Linked DNA regions of Homo sapiens: region 1 is linked to region 2. Evidence: fine-mapped expression QTL. A gene starts in region 2. The other region holds a variant in brackets. All regions are shown on one strand. Distances are from middle to middle. Region 1 overlaps MINDY4 (MINDY lysine 48 deubiquitinase 4). Region 2 holds the start of INMT-MINDY4 (INMT-MINDY4 readthrough (NMD candidate)).

Region 1 (9,971 bases), 89 kb before region 2:
TGAAGTGCAGGAAAAAGACATTTATCTAGAGATAGGGAAAATAAATGATCTTGAGGGAATAATACATCCTGCTTTTACCTAAATTACCCAAGTGTTTCAGATGAAAGAGATGTTTCTACCCTAACTTTCTCAAAATAGCCTCACCTGTCCACTGTGACGTGCCCATGGAGCCATGTACAGAGTCTATAATTTGGGGGAGCTCCCTGTCTGCTCCCTCTCAGGGTCAAAAGCTGCAATAGGGGGTAGAAAGGCTGGCCTGGGGCTGCAGGACCATAGGTTCTGCTACCAATGTCCACAGAGGCCTTGGGCAAGCACCTCTCCTTATCTGGGCCTCGAATTCCCCAACTTCAGAGGGGAAGTGGAAGTGAGAGGAGGACTTCCTGGATTCCCCGACTCTCAGATCCGCACCCGCCTCTGAGGGCCGTTCCTGGCCTGTGGCTCTCTCCAGGCCTTCAGGGGGATCAAGAGCTCTTCATCTCTTTCTGTGAGCCAAGCCGGCACAGCCTCTTCTCAAGTGGAAAAACACCAAGTACTGCTGCCCAGCTCCATCCTTCCCGACTGAGGAGAGGCCGGCTGCCGGCCTGATGGAATGAGTCGTAATGAAGCCAGACAGTCCTGCAGAAAAAACACCACCACTGCCAAGATGCCTTTATTTCAGCGTGACTTCCCTGGAGGGTGCGATCCCATCCTCCATCTGCTTTCACAGAACCATTTCCCCACCAGATGTGGTGGGCAACATCTGAGGTGGGGGCCTCCAGGGCCAAGGCAGACCCCGCACACAGGCAGGAAAGTGCAGGGGCTGCCTCTGGGTCCACAGGGCCTGAGCTCCCCAGAGCCGCAGAGCAGATGGCAGCTGATGGCAGGTCATCGTGGTGTTCCTGAAGAAAACAGAAGAGCTTGCCCTTTTTTTTTTTTTTTTTTAAGCTGGATCATGTCTGAAATCCTAGAATTTCAGAGTCAAAAGGGAGTGCTGAGGCCTCACACCCAACCATTCACACATGGCTTTTGAAGGAACATCAATAACACAATCAATCAATGTGAAAACTATATAAGTCAATGAAACCGAGGAGCTGAGGACTGAGAGAGGTTCCTGCCCACGTGACCCAGTGTTTCCCTTTGCTCGTGTGGGGCAGGGGCTCTGTAGGTGTTTGCTATGTTGCTCTCTGTACTCTTCTGTGTTCATCTTTTCTAACTTAAAGCCAAAGGGGAGGTTCCACCGTGAAGCCGTTCATGAACAGAGCCACCCCTTGGTCCCTAGGAGTCTGTGTGGGTGTCCAGCGATGGAAGTCTAAAACTCAGAGCCCTCAGCCTTCCTCCTGGCCTCCCTGGGCCCCCACTGCTCCATGCCTCTTGCAGGGCACAGCAGCACAATGTGACACAGGGGCACCAGGTGCCAGTCTTGGTTCTGCCAGGGATGCCAGATGTGACCCTGAACAACCATCTTTCCCTCTCTGGGCCTCAGTTTCCCCATCTGTACCATGGCAGGCTGAGTTCAATGGCCCTACTCACTTATAGAGCCCTTGAAGATTTACAAAGGACTTTGCATTTTCTTACTGAGTCCAATTTAGGCAAGCCAGAGATGACTATTCCTAGTTCACAAACGGAGAAAGTGATGCTCTGTTTCCACACAACCATAATCCAGGTCCTGACCCGGTCTGGTACCCTCTTCAGCACCCTTCCCCTCTCCCAGGGTGGCTGAGGGGCACAAAGCCAGGCATTCCCCCTCCCAGCCTGGGCACCAACATCTACAGGCTAGACACCCACCCACTTGGCAAGGACAACCTTCTGTAGCCTCTGACCTTCAGGGCCTTGGCAAAGCAGTGACATGGACTCCACCTCCCTTCTCTTCTCCAGGCCCCCGACAGCAGGCCCTCACTCCCTGGTCTTCCGGGTCTTCACTTGACAGAAGCCCTAACCTGTCCTCAGGAGGGTTCTTCCTCCCCAACCCCTATCTACCTGCGACCTGAGGCAGGACCAGTGCAGGAGAGTGGGAGGAGACTGGGGTGGGAGGGCTGGGGAGGGCATCTGGTGCCTGCTGCCCAGGGCCCATCACCAGGAGGAGGCGAGTCCTTGCTGGGGTCAGGGGAGACGGTCTCTGGGCCTCCCCAGCTTGTCTCCCTGTGACAGCTCTGCCTGAGTCCCCTGAGGCTTTTTCAGCGAGCTCCATAACTAAGCCAGGCTCTCCACTCCTCCCTCTCAGGGGAGTCTGAAGAATGTCCCCTGAGGCCTGCTAGGAGGTCTGTGGGAGCAGGAAGTCAGACCGCTTCACTCAACCTGCACAGCACAGCACCTCTGTGATGGGGCAGCAGCCGGTAGGGGTGGGCTACAAGCAGCACCCAGTCCAGGGGGTGGGCTACAAGCAGCACCCAGAGTTGCAGGGCTCCAAACAAAAGCGAGGTCACTCTCCTACACCATGAATCCTTCCAGGCTCGCTGGAGAAGGTGGCCCTGGCCAGCAGGCCGTGCTCTCCCAGCTGCATGGCACAGACCTCCTCTGGTCCAGCCAGGCAGGCCCCCCCATAAGGTCTGGCTCCTTGGCACCTGGCACACCTCCACACATGATGACCCCCAACAGGCCAGCAGCTCCTTCTTCCCTCCTCCTCTGCCCACCCCCACAGCCCCAGGACCCACTGGGCTGCACCATCCTTGGCCTGCAGCTAGGAGGTACCTGCCTGGCCGGCAACGACAGATAGAAAACCTCACTCCTCCAGCTTAGCAGTTTTCTTTCTACCCAGACACCCCCTTGGGATCCCAACCTGGATGGCTTTTGCCTTCTAAGGCCTGGCTTCCCTCCCTGGTGTGGACAGCAGTGGGCTTCCACCCCATGGATGTGGCCTGGGGGTGGGGTAACAAAAACCAAGTCTGCCTTGTGCCCTGAGCAGAGTCGGCTCTTCCTGGAACATGCTTAAATGCCTTGTCCTGACTGTTGGGAAACCATCCACAAGTTCCCCCAGAAGCCCACGGTGAAGTTCAAAAGCAACTCTGAAGGAGCACTAGGCTGAAATGAGTTTAGAGACAATCTCCTGCAAGGGCCAAGGCTTGATCCAAGCAGCTGGCAGCACCCAAGGCCCCTCTGGCAGCCTGGCGCTGACCTGCCACTACCCCAGCTCCCACCCTCCTCCTCCAAATGCTGCCCTAACCACCCCCAGTGACTCCTCCACTCCTCTCACTGCCCACAGGCTTTGCACATCTTGTTCTCTTTACTGGAATACCATTCTGCCTCCCCTCCCTGTTTGGATAACTCATTCATTTGTCCATGTGTTCTCTCAACAAAAATTCTGAGGGCCTCTTCTGTGGACCAGACACAGGGCTGGATGCCAGGGCCCTGGCTGTGAACCAGCTCAGGAAGGTCCCTGTTCTCACGGGGCTTGTGTTCTGGAGTGGGGTGGGCAGTAGTAGGTGGCGGCAGATGTGGACAGGTAACCATATCGATGAGCAAGAGCACCAGCTGGCAGTGGAGTTATTAGAGGCAGGGCCTGGTTTTATCTTAATGGGGGAGGTCCCAGGAGGCCTCCACAAAGATGTGGCCTCTGTGCAATGAGAGGAGCCAGCAGGCACAGCGCCTGAGCACAGAGCCTGAGGGCTCAGGAAGGTGTTTGAGAATATTTGCTGGGAAGGTGAAAACAATTTGAGGGGGAATAAGAGTGTGCAAGGATGCATATGAAGGGGAATCAGGGGTTCTGTCCATCCTTCCTATCTCCGTAAGATGAAAATGTCAGTCCACCAGGCTGCCCGCCCTGAGCCACTTCATGTCCAGATGAACCCTTAGCACCGTGCATGTCCCCTGTAACCACCTGTTCCTGTCTGGCTCTCCTGTTCAATCATAGGTGCCATGAGGGCACCTGTATGTGTCTTGTTCAGCCCTGTATCCCTGCTGAGGACCTGCTAAGCACACTCTGCACATTTTTTTCAGTGCAAGGAAGGAAGGTGGGTAGGTAGGTAGGTGCATATGTGCTCAGTATCCCTGTACCCTCTGAGGGCAGCCAGCGGTTCTTACTTAGCAAAGTTCCACCCAGTCAGGAGCATTCCTGAGCATACAGGACTGTGTTGAGCCCACCAGGGAGAGCTGATGGCAGGGTCTCTGCCCATGACATTCAAACCTCCCAGCCCTTTGTGGGGCTGAACTTCCAGAGCAGGCAGTGGGGCATGATCCTGTACAGACAAGAGCCACGAAGGATCGACCGGAGAGCAAAGGGGAGGGGAAGCAGAGAGAAGAACAAGGACAGGTGAGATCTTGCCACGGAAGTGTTACATTGCTGTGCTTCTGATTAGCATTTTTGGTTGGAGAGGAAACACCTCAATTATTATTGTGCAAAACCATTGGAAAAAATTTTAAGATGCCAAGCATGAAAAGCCACCTTCACTTGAACCCTAACTAAGGAAAAATCATCCGTGCTGGTGAAATGTGTTTCATTGGAGTACCAAGCTTGGCTGGATGGCTCTCCTAGTGAACAGTGTCGTTCCCAGGAATGCATGGGAAATGGGTCTTGTTGTCTGGGTAACACCTAGGCTTTTTTAAAAAAGATTCTCAAATGCTTATTTCAAAGAACAAGTACCTTTCAATAAAGTTCAGGAACTGGCAAGATTAAGCTATGGTTTTAAAATCCATTTAATTATTAATATAACTTCAGGAGAATAGGGGTACCTGCTGGGTACCAGAGGATGCTTCTGGAGTACTAGAAATATTTTTTCTTAATCTAGACAATGTGTTCATGGGTGTGCGGTTTTGTGATAATTCATTGAGCAGAACACACATAGTATAACTACTGTGTATATGTTATATTTTAACTAAATTTTTTTTTTTTAAAAAAGGCCAATTGCCAGAAGTTCTGTAGCTCTGAGGGTGACTCGGTACAAGCTGGTAACCGGGCCTGCAGGGAGGGAAAGAGAGGCAGGTCACTTCCTCAAGAAGGCCTCGCCTCCAGCCCCACCAGTGCCCTGCCAATCCTTTCATCTTGGCACCAACGATGGTATGGGATTGGGGTTTTCTATCTGCCTCTCAACCTCATGGAGCATTTCTGGAGAGGACAGAACTCATCTAATTCTCCCCTGTATCATTTGTGCCTGCACAGAGATGTTCCAGGAATGTGTGCTGAATGAATGAGAATAAGGTGCTCATGTGCAAACACTTAATGTGTGAAATGGAAACTGAACGGCTGCAGGGAGTGGAAGTGATGATCTGTGGGGCGGCCTGGAATGTGTGGTTATGAATGTTGG[C/T]AGAGGGGAGATAGCGTGGGGAGGGAAGGGAGGCCCGGACGCAGTCGAAAGGTCGGCAGGTCGACCTGGTGGGTGGAAGGGATTCGGGCAGCTTGCCGTCTGAGGAGGGAAATTGGTTTTGATGTCGTTCCTGCAGCCCCTTCCCAGGTGGAGCACCACTGAGAACCCTCCCCGCTTTCAGAAACAAACGCGCACAAGTCCCCTTAACACTGGTCTGCGCAGGCCTTGTCAGCTAGCTGCCATTAACCTCTCCTTTCTTGACCTGCAGAAGACAGGAAATATCAGGGAACACACATGCTTCCTTGCTTGTTTTTTCTGGACACTCTGGGGAAGACTTGGGAAAATAAGATATTGCCAGAAAGAGCACTGACTTACTGAGCACAGTCGGCTTTGCTATCTCCTTCAAACAGGAGTTTCTGTAGGACACAGCCTTGGACAGCTGCCAGGACTCCGCAAGGACCACCCTGCAAAGAATGAGACCATTGCTGCCAGTGAGAACTGGCCTGGGGCAGAGTTTTTGGTTTCACCCAAACCCACCCCAGAACCCACCTGATAGAGTAAAGGGGCCCTGCCTTCTGCAACAGAAGGGCCTCTGATGTGGCAACTGCTTCTACAACACACTAACCTTGGGCCACAGAGAGGGAGTGACAAGACCCTTTGTCCACTCCTAGGGGAAGGGGCCAGTTGTCAGTGTGTCATGGGAGGAAAGTGACTCCTCATAACCAGTCAGCTGTGAAGCCAAGGACATCACCATAGGTTTTCTATCATCTAGGGAAATGTTTCTGTGTCTACAGGTTGAGGGTGTTAATTGTCTACCCAGCCTTCAAGGCCCATCCTAAAGTTCTCCTCCTCCAAGAAGCCTTTCCTGACCATCTCGGCTGGCAGTGAGCCCCTTCAACAGCCTGTGGTTACATGAGCTCTGCGCTCTCTTCTGCCCCACTTGTGGCCTGCTTCAGCACCACATTAGGTGTATCTTTGTCCTTTCTCACCCTGTGGTGCAGAGGCTTCTTGAGGAGCTCATCTCTGTAGGCATCACGGGGCTTAGCACAGGATCTGACTCCTGGGACACATTGGCAAAGGCTAGTGGGACTGAACAACACAAACAGACCTCATCCAGGTTTAAGGATTGTCTGAACGGCAGGTTGGGGTGCTCATGAAGACCAGCTGAGTTTGGCCACAAGAGGGAGGGACAGAAGCTGGTGGTCCTGGGGCTCGACCTCAGGCAGTGTGGGGCAGGGGAGGTTCCTGGGGCTTAAGAAACTGAACCGGACCAAGCTGCCCTGCTCAACTGCTGATTCTTGATCCTGGGTTTAGCTTATTTTCTGCCCATGAGTATAATGTGGGAACTGGGTATAAGCCATGTTCTAGGCCTGCAACCATTGGCCTCCGCTGGCCCAGCTTCTATTACATCCTTCTCTTCAAGCACTTGCTCTGCACACTTGATCCCTCTGCCTTTTCATGCAGCCCCTAGACTTTCAAACCGCCTCCCCTTCATTAATGCTGCCACCTGCCTGGAGTGCCCTTTCTCCAGCTCTATCTGCAAAATCCTGTGAATCTCTCAATGATCAGCCTAAGAAGGCCCCTCTAGTGGCCCCAAGCAGACTGAAGGCCTCCTACTGCTCTCTCTCCTGCTGAGGATCCCAGCACCTGCACCACTCACAGCAAGTGCTCCTTAAATCCATGTTCAATTTTAACATCTCCAAAGCAGAGGGTCTTATTCCCCAGCTCTTGCTGCACCAGCCACATCTGAAGTGCCTGCACCAAGTGACAACTCAGCACATGTGGGGCTGGCTGGTCCAGAATAGCTCAGCTAATGCTCACAGGATTAACCAAAACTGGGAGGTACACCCACCCCTATGCATGATGGCCCAGCAGAAAGGTCCCAAGGAAACCTAGGAGCAACCTGCCTTGTTCTGCACTATGCCGTATTTTAATGAGGCTGTGTTACTAAAGGAAAAACTCTGAAGTTTCCATTCTTCATTGAAACAGCAAAAGCTGGAACCAAACAGAAGGGTCTTTATTTCCTATAAAAAGAAGAGAGAGTTTTACTGGTTGTTTTAAAAGCAAGCAACAATACGATGTTCAGTGTGCATATTCCTGCAGAAGTTGTTCTTGAATTCTAGCAGGGAAGCCCATTTTCTAGCATGGTTCATCTCTTCTCTTTTTATTTTTCAGGCTCATTCTTCTTATATTTGATGAAAGAGAAACTCAATAATGAGGGTCTTACCTCTGGAACATCTTTAAACCAAGCTAGCCTGTGCTGACATGGGCCAAAATCTTTGTAAGCTCCTTACAGGGGCCTTGAGAAACAAAATTTTAGATTTGCAAGGGATCTTGGAGGTCCTCTGATCTTCCACAGGCAAGACTAGGGGTTTTCAAACTCGACCTCACATTAGAACCATCTAGGATACGAAGTTCCTAAAAACAATCTTGATGTTCAGAAAACACACCAGCCAATTAAACCCCAGTTGCTGAGGGTGAGACTCCAGTATCAGTAGTTTTAAGATTCCCCCAGGTGATTCCACAGTGTGCCGGGTTTGAGAGCCAGTGCTCTAGTGCAGGGTTACTAAACTGTGACCCACAGGCCAAATCTGCCCCCACCACCTGTTTGTAAATAATGTTCTACTGGCACACAGCAAAGCCCATTTGTTTCCATACCACCCATGGCTGTGTTCATACCATGATGGCAAAGTTGAATAGGTGCAGCAGAGATCACACTGCCAGCAAAGCCAAAAATACACTATTGAGCCCTTTACAGAAAACACCTGCCAACTCCTGGTCTAGTACAACTCTCTACCATGCGTAAGAACCTCCTCTGTGATGCCGCCCATGAGTGGTCCCCCGTGAACTCTGCTTGAACCATCCCAACCCCCCAGTGAAGGGGTTCCCACCACCTCTCAAGGCAGCCCCTCTACTTTCTCACGGCTGTCTTCTCCAGACTTCTGGCTGATAATGAGTTCACTGTTCATTTCCCATCAACCCACGCATCACCCTCCAGAGCCCCCAGAATGGTCAATCCCTTCCCCATGGACAGGCCCTCAGATGAGAAAGGCAGCAGGTCCCCGCCCACTCCCCTCATGATGGGCCCACCCTCTCTCTGCCATGGTTTTACATCTGAGGGGGTCTCTGAAGCCTTGAGTGAGCCCCAAGACCAGCAGGTGGATTCTACAGCCACTTCCCTGTACCCCCTCTCTGGGTCAGACCTTTCCTACAGACTCATTATTTTCCACCAGAATCAGCTCTTTTTTTCCTTTTCATTAAATATAAGGAAAAATCTCTTTGACAGAAGCATTTGTCCACATGTCATCAAATGTGGGCTGGTGGCACACAGGAGAAAGGATGTGTGGATTCATCTGTCAGGGCTCAGAATGACAGCTCCCGCTAGGCACAGTGTGGTCAACAGAGCCTGGGAACCTGGACTCTGCTTTCCAGAGGCCACGTGCCCTGGGCCCTCCTGTTTTCTCTGCAGGCCTCACTTTTTCCAGTTGCTTTTGGAGACGCTACTGCTGCATAGTCTTTAGGAGCCTGAGGGGTCTGCCCCAAGCATAAGTGCGCTCTGCAAAGACTCATTGCATGGTGACAGATGACAGAGCACCTCCTCCCAGGTTTGGGGCCATTTAAGTGTATCTGACCCTCTGTAGCTTCAAAAGAGAGAATGGAAGAAGGGGGAGATATGAGAGAGAAGGGGAGAGGGGAGGAGAGGGGAAGGAAACGAAAGGACAAAACCTCTAGAAAAATATTTTGCTCTTTGATTTGTATGCTGAGTAAATATGTAGTAAGTAGGAAGAGAAGGAAGTCAGCTGTGTCCCTAGGAGTTTTATTTTTCCCTCCTGGATCTTGGTGAAAGGCCAGAAGAGGACAGCGGGAATGACATTCCATCCTGCAGGAGCCTCTGGTCACGGGAGTGGTGAGGCCACCCTGGTAGCCGAGCATGGTGAGCAATCCCAGACACCCCTGCAGAAGAGGCTGCTGTGGCCAGGAACCTGCTCCTGGTCCCCTGTGACCACGGGGCCCTTTAAGTGGCCAAGGGAGTACACCTGAACAGTGCTGAAGAATTGTTAACACCTCCCTGTCCTTCCTTCACTGCAACCTGGCCAGGGCTTAGGAGACCAGTACAGGAGCAGCGCTGCTCTAATGGGGACAACTGGACCATTTCCATCACACCCTAACGGTGCCCACAGGGACATGATGAAGCAGCTCTATTCCCACGGTATTTGGAGGGGAGGACATAACCTCCTCCCTCACCTTTTGTCTTGGAGAGGGAACGAGAGCTGCAAGGACTAGACTGCAGTTTTCCTGACTCTCGGTTCACATTTTCTTCTACATCACACCCAAATTTCCATTTCAACAATGACCAAGAGATTACAATGAGCTGGATTGGGGCAGAAACACCAAAATCACGCCATCTATATCCATTCAAATCAAGACACATTTAACCCAGGAGTCTCCTTACACTTACCTTTGCTACTGAGAGGTCAATTGGTTTTGATGCTGTCTGCAACTTGAGCACTGATGGGACTGGCGACAGGATGACCTCTTCCCTTATCAACTCATCCTCCACATCCTCTGAAAGAAAACCATGGCCATGTGAGCCCTTCGTTATGACTCACGGAGAACAGAACATGAAGTCACTGAACACCACAGACATTGCTAAGTTTGTAGAAGGTTTGAGTGAAAGGAGGGTTCCTCCCCGCATTCATTCACCCCAGCTCTGTTCTGAAGTTCCCAGACCCTTAGCGGAAGGAAAGCAACCAG
Region 2 (9,971 bases):
AAAGTCTGAGGGGAGTGGGTAGATGGACAGAAAGAACACTCAGGGCCCATAGGCAGGTGAATATGGTTTTATTCAGCAACAGCTCTCATCAACAGCTTACACTAGCTCTCTCACACTGTCCGCCCTGCCTTGGCTGCTTGAGCCCGTGGCTTCCACACACAGCTGTGCAGCCTGCTCTCCCTTGCCTTCAGGGTCAGCAGCTTAACTTTTTCTCTCTCTGGGCGTGAGCAAGCTGAGCTGTGTCCTGGCTCCTTCCTGTCCATCTGCAAAACGGACAGCTTTGGCTCTCTCTCTCTCTTACTGGGCGCCAGTGTGCCCACCATGTCAAGCCATGTTGAGCTGAGCCGAACCCCAAGAGCCCCTGTACAGCATTAGCAGGACAATTACCTTTTACAGACAACAGTGGCTCAGACCAAGTATGAACTTACACAAACAGGTTATATAACAAGTGGAGGTGTGTGCCTGTGCACCAAACCCACTGAGTCATGCAGGCATGGATCTCTGCCTTGGCCTATTCCTTGACCAAAGCACATCCATGTACCTTACACCTGGGTCTGAAGTAGGGTTGCCAGATGAAATACAGGACACCCAGCTAAATTTGAATTTCAGGTGAACAACAAATCATTGTTTAGATTAAGCATGTTCCATGCAGTTCTGGGGACATACTTAACCTTATAGATTTATTTCATTTATCTAAAATTCAATGAACTGGGGCAGTCTGTATTTGCTAAATCTGCTGACCTTAGTCTAGAGGCAGTGGTATGTTCCAGCTGACTCCAATCAGCTCATGAGAGTCAACTGTAAAATATTTAGGAGATTTATGAGCTGGTTATTAAACCACTGGTGGCTTGAAATCAACCATGGTGGGAGTATTTACACCACAGAAATTGGTGACTACCACACATCAGTGCTTTTCCTTTACAGAGCTGGTTATAGAACATTCCCCCTGGCTGGGTGCGGTGGCTCACGCCTGTAATCCCAGCACTTTGGGAGGCCAAGGTGGGTGGATCACCAGGTCAGGAGATCGAGACCATCCTGGCTAACACGGTGAAACCCCATCTCTACTAAAAATACAAAAATTAGCCGGGCATGGTGGCGCGTGCCTGTAGTCCCAGCTACACGGGAGGCTGAGGCAGGAGAATGGCGTGAACCCGGGAGGCGGAGCTTGCAGTGAGTCGAGATCGCGCCACTGCACTCCAGCCTGGGCGACAGAGCGAAACTCCGTCTCAAATAAAAAAAAAAAAAAAAAAATTAGCTGGGTGTGGTGGCGAGCTCCTGTAGTCCCAGCTACTCGGGAGGCTGAGGCAGGAGAATGGCGTCAACCCAGGACGCAGAGCTTGCAGTGAGCCGAGATCGTGCCATTGCACTCTAGCCTGGGTGACAGAGCCAGACTCCGTCTCAAAAAAAAAAAAAAAATTCCCCAATATACCACTGTCCAGAGGTTTCCTTGTCCTTAACATATTAGGTAGACTCAGAGGTTTCCTTGTCCTTAACATATTAGGTAGACTCTAAAACCACGTCCCTGGGTGCTCCACAGTCACACAGGAGTCAGATCGCATCTAAGATAGCTGTAAGGCTTAGTATATTAGAAAATGGAAAATTCCACTCCTAGGATCCTAGAATGAGGAATGTTGGAAACTTAGAATTCTAAAACAAGGATGTTAGAATCTCAGAATTTCAGAAGATGGAATGTTAGTGTTGAAATCAGAGACTGTTAGACAGTATCCATTCCTCACCCCTCTCTAGCATACAGATGGCCAAGGCCTCACAGCCTGACCAGACCTCTGGCTGGCCCTCCTGGCTCAGGGCCCAGGCTTCTTGCGAGCCACAATGAAGCAGACCCCATTGTTGGCAGCATTGGTGACAGAGTAGCTCTGGGGACTGTGTAGGAGCTGTTCAATGTCAAAGCCAGCATCCAGGACAGCCTGCTCCACCTCCTCTTTCTCCAGGGCCACGCAGGAAAATTCACGCTTCCCCACCATGTAGGACGGGAGCCGAAGCGTGACAGTGGTCACCAGGTGGCCACCCGGCTTGAGCAGTGAGGCAAGGTTGCACAGGGCAGCGCGGTAGGCATCAAGGCTACAGCAGGCACACTCCATGGCCAGCAGGGTGAGCACACAGTCGGCGAGAGGCAACACAGCCGGGGCCAGCGGGTTGCCCAGGTGGACATCGCACTTGAGCACCCGCTTCACCGCTGCCCGCAGCTTCTCCTCCTTCTCCTCCCATCGGCCGCTGCAGAGAGAGAGAGGGAGTCGGGGAGGCCCTTTGAGGTTCTGAAGGGAACTCTCAGTCCACTGTGACCAGCAGATGGAGATGATCTCTGGATCCCCAAAGGATTGCTGTCCCTGAGTCCCTGTGTGACCTGACAGCAGGCTCTTCTTCAATCTGAGCCTCAGTTTCTCCCAAAGAAAAATGGTTAGGGAGAATGGCTAGAACAATTATAGGAAACTTTCTCTCTCTGATTCCATGTGAGCCCCCTTCCCTTAATCCCCAGGATGGACAAAGCCACCCCAAGCACAGAGAGGGCAGTTAACAAACATTATTGGATGGATGGATGAATGAATTAATGAATTTACTACAGATAATGTATGAATATAGCTATCTTAAAAATATAATTTTGAGTGATGAAAAGCAAATCGCAAATGACACAGAGCAAATTACTCTGCTATAAAGCTCAAAGGCGACTAAAACTAAATTATAGATTGTTTAGATATACATAAGTATGCAAGAAAAAAATTTTTTGAAAAAGGGAATGATAAGCATAAAATCCATATTAGTGATTACCCGAGGTTGGGAAAGGCAGAGGCAAGGAGTCACAGAGAAGCACAGGTAAGTCTTTATTATATTCGAGTACTCAGGTTGGGTGGTGAGTTCACGTCATTATACATTATATAGTCAGTCACACAGGTACAGACAATAGAGGGAAGAAGGAAAGATGGATGGATGGGTGGGTGGGTGGATGAATGTGGATGGACATGGATGGATGGATGGATGGATGGATGGATGGATGGATGGATAGATGGATATGGATGGATGGGTGGATGGATTGATGGATGTATAGATGGATATGGATGGATGGGTGGATGGATGGATAGATGGATGGCTGGGCGGATGTATGTGGATGGATGGATGGATATGAATGGGTGGATGGATGGATGGATGGATGGATATGGATGGATGAATGGATGGGTGGGTGGATGGATGAATATTGATGGATGGATGAATGGACGGATGGATAGATGGATGGATAGGTGAACGGCTAGTTGGCTGGCTGGATGGATGGATGGATATGGATGGGTGGGTGGATGCATGAATATGGATGGATGGATGGATGGATGGATGAATGGATGAACCGGTGGGTGGACGGATGGATGGATATGCACGGATAGTTAGATACATAGAAGATAGAGAGGTAGATATATAGATGAGGGTAAGGAAGGAAGAGAAGAAGGAAGAGATGAAAATCATCTGGTTTTCAGTGTTCATACTTGACTATATCACACCTCAACATAGTCCTGTGATCAGAGTCTTGCCCCTAAAACTGCTGTAATCCTGAAACTTGGGATTCCATCTACTCTATCCCCACCACAGGACATCTGGTCCTATACCTGAAGGTCCTACTGTCCTGAAAATGTCAGAGACAACAAAGAGGCCAGGGAGACTTCTGAGAAAGAAGGTTGACTGGGAACCCCCTCCCCAACCTCTGCACCCCTACCTGTTTCCTTCCAGCTCACAGGCGAATTTCACCGCTGGGGTCCAGTCATAGGCCCCCGGCTCCTTCTTCAGCCACTTTTCCAGCTCCTCCCGGTTGCGGTCGGTAAAGTCGGAGAGAGTGATGTCTTGGAAGGAATCACAGGCAGCAAGAACTTGGTAGATGGTAGGACCTGAGCCAATGTCAATCAGCGTGTCCCCTTGGAGGCCTCCTGTGGGAGGGAAAGACTGGTAATGGATGGGTAAAAGAAACGAGACCCAAGGCAGACACAGGGATGAGGACACACACCCTGGTCTTACCCAAGGGGCAAACGTGCTTGGTGGTTATCACGGATTGGCAGCTCCCTGTAAGCCAAGCCTCATGCCAAATATTTTATATGTGTTAATTTCCATTTACACCTCAAAACTACCCTGTGTAGTGACTGCTATCACTATTTTCATTTTGCAGATTAGAAAACTGAGTCTGTAAAAGGTTAAACAATTAGCCCAATACCTTTCAGTCAAGAACATAAGCCAAGAGTATAATATTTCTGGGACAGAGAACAGAGGCCCAAGCCCTGCTCTGGGGAAGATTCGGGCTGGAGAGTTCAGAGAGGACATGCTGGGGTCAGTGGCCCTTTAAGTTTCAGGCTGACTGGGAGCTGGAAGCCTCCCCTGGAAGTCCAGCCCTTCCTGGATGGGTTTCTTGTTCCTTGGAGGAGGGAGGGGTGAAAGCATACAGGAATAGGAAGCCGGGGCTAAGGAGATGATCTGGGAAGATGGCCCCAGGAGTGAATCCAGGGTCACCTGGAAGCTGGAATGAAGCATGACTTCCAACATTCTGTCTGGAGCCCTGGCGTGGGGCCATCACTTGGCCTTCCAAGCTTGGTCACACCCAGTCCGGCTGTTCTCTGATTTCTGCCTCCCACACCGGCCTGCTCCTCCAGGCTCAGCAGCCTTTTAACCCCCTCTTATCCCACAGACCACCAGGAGACTCACCCTTACTGTTCCCCAGTCAAGTGCCTAAAGTGAGGACACGGCTGCTTGAGTTTAGAAGACACAATCAAATCATGGGGTCACCATGGGGAGGGCAGTGATCATCGGGAGACAGGCAGAAGTCACCATCCATCGTGCAGATGGCTCAGTTGAGGTCCTTGGGGTCTGAGCCCCTTGCTCAGGGTTGAGACCCCACCTAGCAATCCTTGTCCCAGGGCAGGGCTTTTCCAGGTCCTCATCACAGACACATCTAGGCTGCACACTCCGGGCACAGGCGATCCCGTCCCACTGCAACCCTGCTGTTTGCCCTTGGCCTTCTGGGGGCCCCAGAGGCCTGGCTGTGCAAGGTCAGGACTGAACTTGATGATGACCTGGAGAGCCTTTTCTGCTCCACCCCAAAGACCTAGGGGCTAATGGAGAGCAGTGTGGGAACTGCACGGGGCTGTGCTCTTCAGCTGGCACAGAGCTCCTGAGCCATGGGGAGACAGACTCAACCTCCAGCATAACAGCTGCCCAAAGAGAGGGGGCAGGGCCCCAGAAGCTCCCCCAGCCCATCCCCAAAAACCCCTAGAGGAGACCAGACTGCCCCCAGGACACCGTCTCCCCATCCCCATCCAGGTTCCTTGGAGAGAGGCTCAAGGGGAAGGGCCACCCTCTGCTCACCAGGGCCGAAGGTCTTGTGGAGACATTCCAAGTTAAACTTCAGCATCTCGGCCTCGGGTGAGGGGCTGCCATCGAAGCTGTAGTAAGTAGCCAAGTAGTCCCTGGGCAGGAAGTGCTTCTGGTACTCATCACCCCCAGTGAAGCCACCCTTCATGGTGTCCCTGAAATGTGCCCCCTCCTTGCTATCAGGTCTTATGAGGGCTCCAAGCTCTCCAGGCTCCACCCCCAGCATTCCAGCCTCATCCCATGGCTCCTCCCAAGTATGCCTTTCCTTGAGCTTCTCCTTCTAGGGGGATGCAGAAGGCAGTGCATGTCTCACCACCTCCCAGCCACACTGACACACCTGAGGTTTCCCCAACCCCAGAGCTATGACAGCTGGGGCTGCAGCCGCCCTGGCCCTGCTGCCTCTAGGGACCAACCCATGTCCGTCAAAGGCAATTGATGGTGCCCAGCCCTGGGTGCAACTCTCAGCCCTGGCAGCCACATGCTGCTCTGTGGCCTCCAAGTAGGTGTCAGACCTATGTTTCCCCACCTGCGTGCCCACTTCACTGACTGTAAGGACCAAAGTCACTCCTCTAAGTCACAGGTGTTGTGACCTGAGTGCACAGTGAGATCCCCATCTTGTCGCCTGGTGGTCACTGGGGCCCAGTGGCTCTCTCTAGGCCAGGCAGTGGGTGCAGCTTCATGCATCCCCCATCCCTGCTGGAGAACACAGTTCAGACCCCAGGAGGCAGAGCAGAATGGCTGACTTGGCATCACTGTGCAGGTCACTGGGAGAAGAGCAGAAATTGTCGTCAATCTCCATGAATGAGAACAAGGGCGCCCGGTCATAAAGCATAAACTGTCAGAGGGGTCCTGGCTTCCTGGCCACTGACTCACCTGGCTACTCCGGGTAAGACACTCCTGGCCTCAGTCTTCTCTTTGAAATGGGACTGGGTTGTAAAATCTCCCACAGACAGAAAAAAGCTCAGTCTCTGTTTTTGGCACTAGGAAATGGCTCTGACTTGGCCACAAACCGGACAGAAATGAATCCGCTACACTGGAGGTTCAGGCCTCTTGCCCTGAAAGTGGGAAGGACAGGAATGCCTTGTTCTGGCTTTAAGTAAACAAACAATTCTGAATCCACAGGGCCCAACAGATGGGTGATGCCACAGACGCAGGAACACCCAGCGGTCGTCAGGGCCTGGCTTCCAAGGGGCGGGTGCCTGGGCAGCCTCCAGGGAGGCCTGCGGCTGTCGTGCTGGCCTGCAAAAGGCATACAGAGCAGGCAGGAAACTGCAGGGCTCGCATTACATGATTGGAGGAGTGTGCAATAAAGGCACGGTGCTAACTAAGTTGTGGGCAGGGTGGAAGGAAGACATATGGTACCTCTATTAGTCAGGGTTCTTCAGAGAAAGAGAACCCAGCTTGTGTACACTGAGAGAATCAGATCTATTTTAAGTAATTGGCTTGTATAATTGTGGAGGCCAGTAAGTCCAAACTCTGAAGGGTGGGACCAGGAAAAGCCAATGTTGCAGTCCAAGTCCAAAGACCAGCTGCTGCCAGAATTCCCTCTTGCTCGGGGAAGGCCAGTCTTTTGTTCTACTTGGGCCATCAGCTGATTGGATGAGTCCCGCCCACATTATGGAGGGCGATCTTCTTTACTCAAAGTTTAAATGTGAATTTCATCCAAAAACACCCTTACACAAACAGCCAGGATCATGACTGACCACCTATTTGGGCACCATGACCTAGCCAAGTTGACTCATAGAAAGCACCATCACAGAACCTGAGGGCTAGCAGCATGGAGGAGCCATCATCCCAGTGAGACTGAGACAGAGCTGTGCAGAGAGGGCCTCCTGCAGCAGCCAATAGCAAAAGAGCTGATATGATTTGGCTGTGTCTTCACCCAAATCTTATCTTGAATTGTAGCTCCCACAATTCCCACATGTTGTGGGAGGGACCCGGTGGGAAGTAATTGAACCATTGGGGCAGGTCTTTCCCATGCTGTTCTCATGATACTGAATAAGTCTCTTGAAATCTGATCATTTTATAAGGGGGACTTTCCCTGCACAAGCTCTCTTTTTGCCTGCTGACATCCATGTAAGACATGACTTGCTCCTCCTTGCCTTCAGCCATGATTGTGAGGTCTCCCCAGCCATGTGGAACAGTGAGTCCATGAAACCTTTTTCCTGCATAAATTACCCAGTTTTGGTTATGTCCTTATTAGCAGTATGAAAACGGACTAATAGAGTAGCTAAAGAATAAATACCCAGACCTCCTTCTCCTACCTTCCTCCAATATCCTGCCAAATTTAGAGGGAAGGGAGTGGTGACTACAGTCCACATGTCAGCTTCCTGGCACTTGCAGTAGCCTGGAGAGGATGGAAAGCAGAATGGAGAGGCACATGGAAGACGCCCAGCATTAACACTTAAGGAGTTGAACCGTGGACATGCATGTACTATCCAGGGATTACCCAGAGCCCCTGCAGCAGGACGTGAGCATCTAGGGGGTCTGTACAGGGCGGGAAGAGACCATCCTTCCCAGAACTACACATCATGCTGCAACTGGATGTCCTTGGATGGATAGAGGATGCCCCTCCTAACGCAAGGCCTCCAGTGCCTCCTGCTGCCAGAGGAATGAATCCAAACTCCCCTTTGGCATTCAGAGTCTCTACCCTCTGGCTTCCACCTGCTTCTCCACCACTCAGGCCTTCTCCATCCCTACATGCCTCGTGACTCTGGCCTAACCAAGGGTCCTAACAGCACTATGGCAATCTTCTCAAAGTGAAGCCTCTTACGGATATATTCTAAGAATGAGTTTCTCAACCTCAGTACTATTTGCTCTTCAGGCCAGGTAATTCCTTGTTGGGTGGGGGTGCGGAACTGTGTCATAGGATTTTTAGCAGCATCTCTGGCATCTACCCCCTAGATGCCAGTACACTCCGAAGTTACAACAACCAAAAATGTCCCCAGACATTGTCAAATGTCCCCTGGGAGGCAAAATTGTCCCCGGTTGAGAACCACTATCCTTAGGTTTGCCTTCATCAATGTGACAACTTTGTTCATGACAGGGCTAAGCTTCAGGCCCTTTTAAGAATGTGCACCTCATCTTAGGCACCTTTCTATACAGTGATATTTTTTTAAAATAGAGCAAGGAAATTTCCATTCAAGAGGACTTCTGTTGCAATAGTAAGCAAAGGGGCAAATTTCAAACTGCCTATCAAGAAACTAAGACCACTTGAAAAGTCAGACAGATAAGAAAAGGATCAAGCTCCTTTTCAAGATTAGGGAAACTACCATCTCAGCATTCCACGCTCCCTGATACCTTGCTACTTCTCTTCCTGCCTGGCTCTGTGGGGTGAAGAAATGAGTCCAAAGAGGGAACTTGCCAGTGTAAATGAGATTGTTTTCTCTGGTGAGTTGCAAGCAGCTACTCAGACCCTCGTCTCACACAAAACACCAAAATAAAGGCTAAAATGTCTTTCCAAAAATCAACCACAGAAGCTATCATGGTCAAATTGTTATCAAACTTCTGGGTAAGAGAGGATTTTCTAAACCTAGATTGAAGAAAGCCTGAAGAGAAAAAAAAAAACCACATTTATTATTTTACATTATATTACATTATCTCATATTTTGTTAGAGAAAAATTAAAAATTTTTCCTAAAAAATTAAAAAGAAAAAGCACTATTTTCCTTTTGGAAAAAAATTTGGTGATTATTTGCCTAAATTATTTATACTAAAAGTTTTTAGAACTCTGACCCAGGAATCCTACGTATGGGAATCCAAAATACAGAAAAATACAGAATGCAGAAATACAGAAAAATAATCCAAATACAGAAAAAGCAAATGTACAGGGGTATTAATTACAACATTATTTACAGCAAGGAAAACCTGCAAGTCTCTTACCTGCCAAGCACTGGAGAGCAATTAAGTCAACCTTACTTGAACAGCCCCCAAAACTGACATTCCTGAGCCTTCCTGGTGACATGGAGAAGTGAGTTTGGCCCAGGGCTAGGAGAACAAAGCGATCCAGATAGGTACACACAGTGAGGAGATCACAGCCCTGCAAAGACTTTTCAGATGCAAGAGTGCAGCGGCAGAGGCCAATTCTGACATGAGAAATGCTGGGACAAATATAAGACCCTCAATGTCACCAATCATTTTAACCCACCTAGAATTCACGTTAATTGGATTTCAATATGAATTTTTTTTTTGAGACAGGATCTTACTTGGTTTCCCAAGCTGGGGTGCAGTGGTGGGATCATAGCTCACTGCAGCCTTGAACTCCTGGGTACAAGCAATCCTCCTACCTCAGCCTTCTGAGTAGCTGGGACTGTAGGCACACGCCATCCCATTCAGCTAATTTTTAATTTTTTTTGCAGAAGCAGGATCTCGCTATGTTGCCCAGGCTTGAAATTCATTTTTAATAAACTGGGTAGACATCTAATTTTATTTTCTTCCAATCAGATAGGTAGTTATGCCATCACCATTTATTATGTAATTGACACTTTTCTCACTGAACTGAAATTCCACAGAGTATGAGCTCTGTTAATTTTAGAAAAGAGGAAAATTTACATTTAACACAATAAAATGATAAGAATTATGATTTAAAAATGGATTAAAATCTACACTCTGTTGAAA

What was found. PIP is the estimated chance that this variant, and not a neighbour inherited with it, causes the effect.
Region 1: its variant is the best candidate, but not a certain one, in a credible set for the expression of INMT-MINDY4 in coronary artery (GTEx, PIP 0.51).

What each region holds. Positions count from the first base shown.
Region 1 is chr7:30,836,469-30,846,439 of GRCh38, reverse strand. It overlaps MINDY4 (MINDY lysine 48 deubiquitinase 4), which reads right to left. Exons shown (of 18, transcript NM_032222.3): 7 at 9,676-9,782; 8 at 7,124-7,240; 9 at 5,592-5,680. It overlaps INMT-MINDY4 (INMT-MINDY4 readthrough (NMD candidate)), which reads right to left. Exons shown (of 20, transcript NR_037598.1): 9 at 9,676-9,782; 10 at 7,124-7,240; 11 at 5,592-5,680. Among named protein-coding and RNA genes, the nearest start is that of MINDY4, 70 kb to the right of the region's middle. The variant C/T (reference allele first, on the strand shown) is at 5,217.
Region 2 is chr7:30,747,683-30,757,653 of GRCh38, reverse strand. It overlaps INMT-MINDY4 (INMT-MINDY4 readthrough (NMD candidate)), which reads right to left and starts at 5,519. Exons shown (of 20, transcript NR_037598.1): 1 at 5,350-5,519; 2 at 3,716-3,920. INMT (indolethylamine N-methyltransferase) reads right to left here and starts at 5,519. Exons shown (of 3, transcript NM_006774.5): 1 at 5,350-5,519; 2 at 3,716-3,923; 3 at 52-2,232. The coding sequence starts at 5,503. The coding sequence ends at 1,803.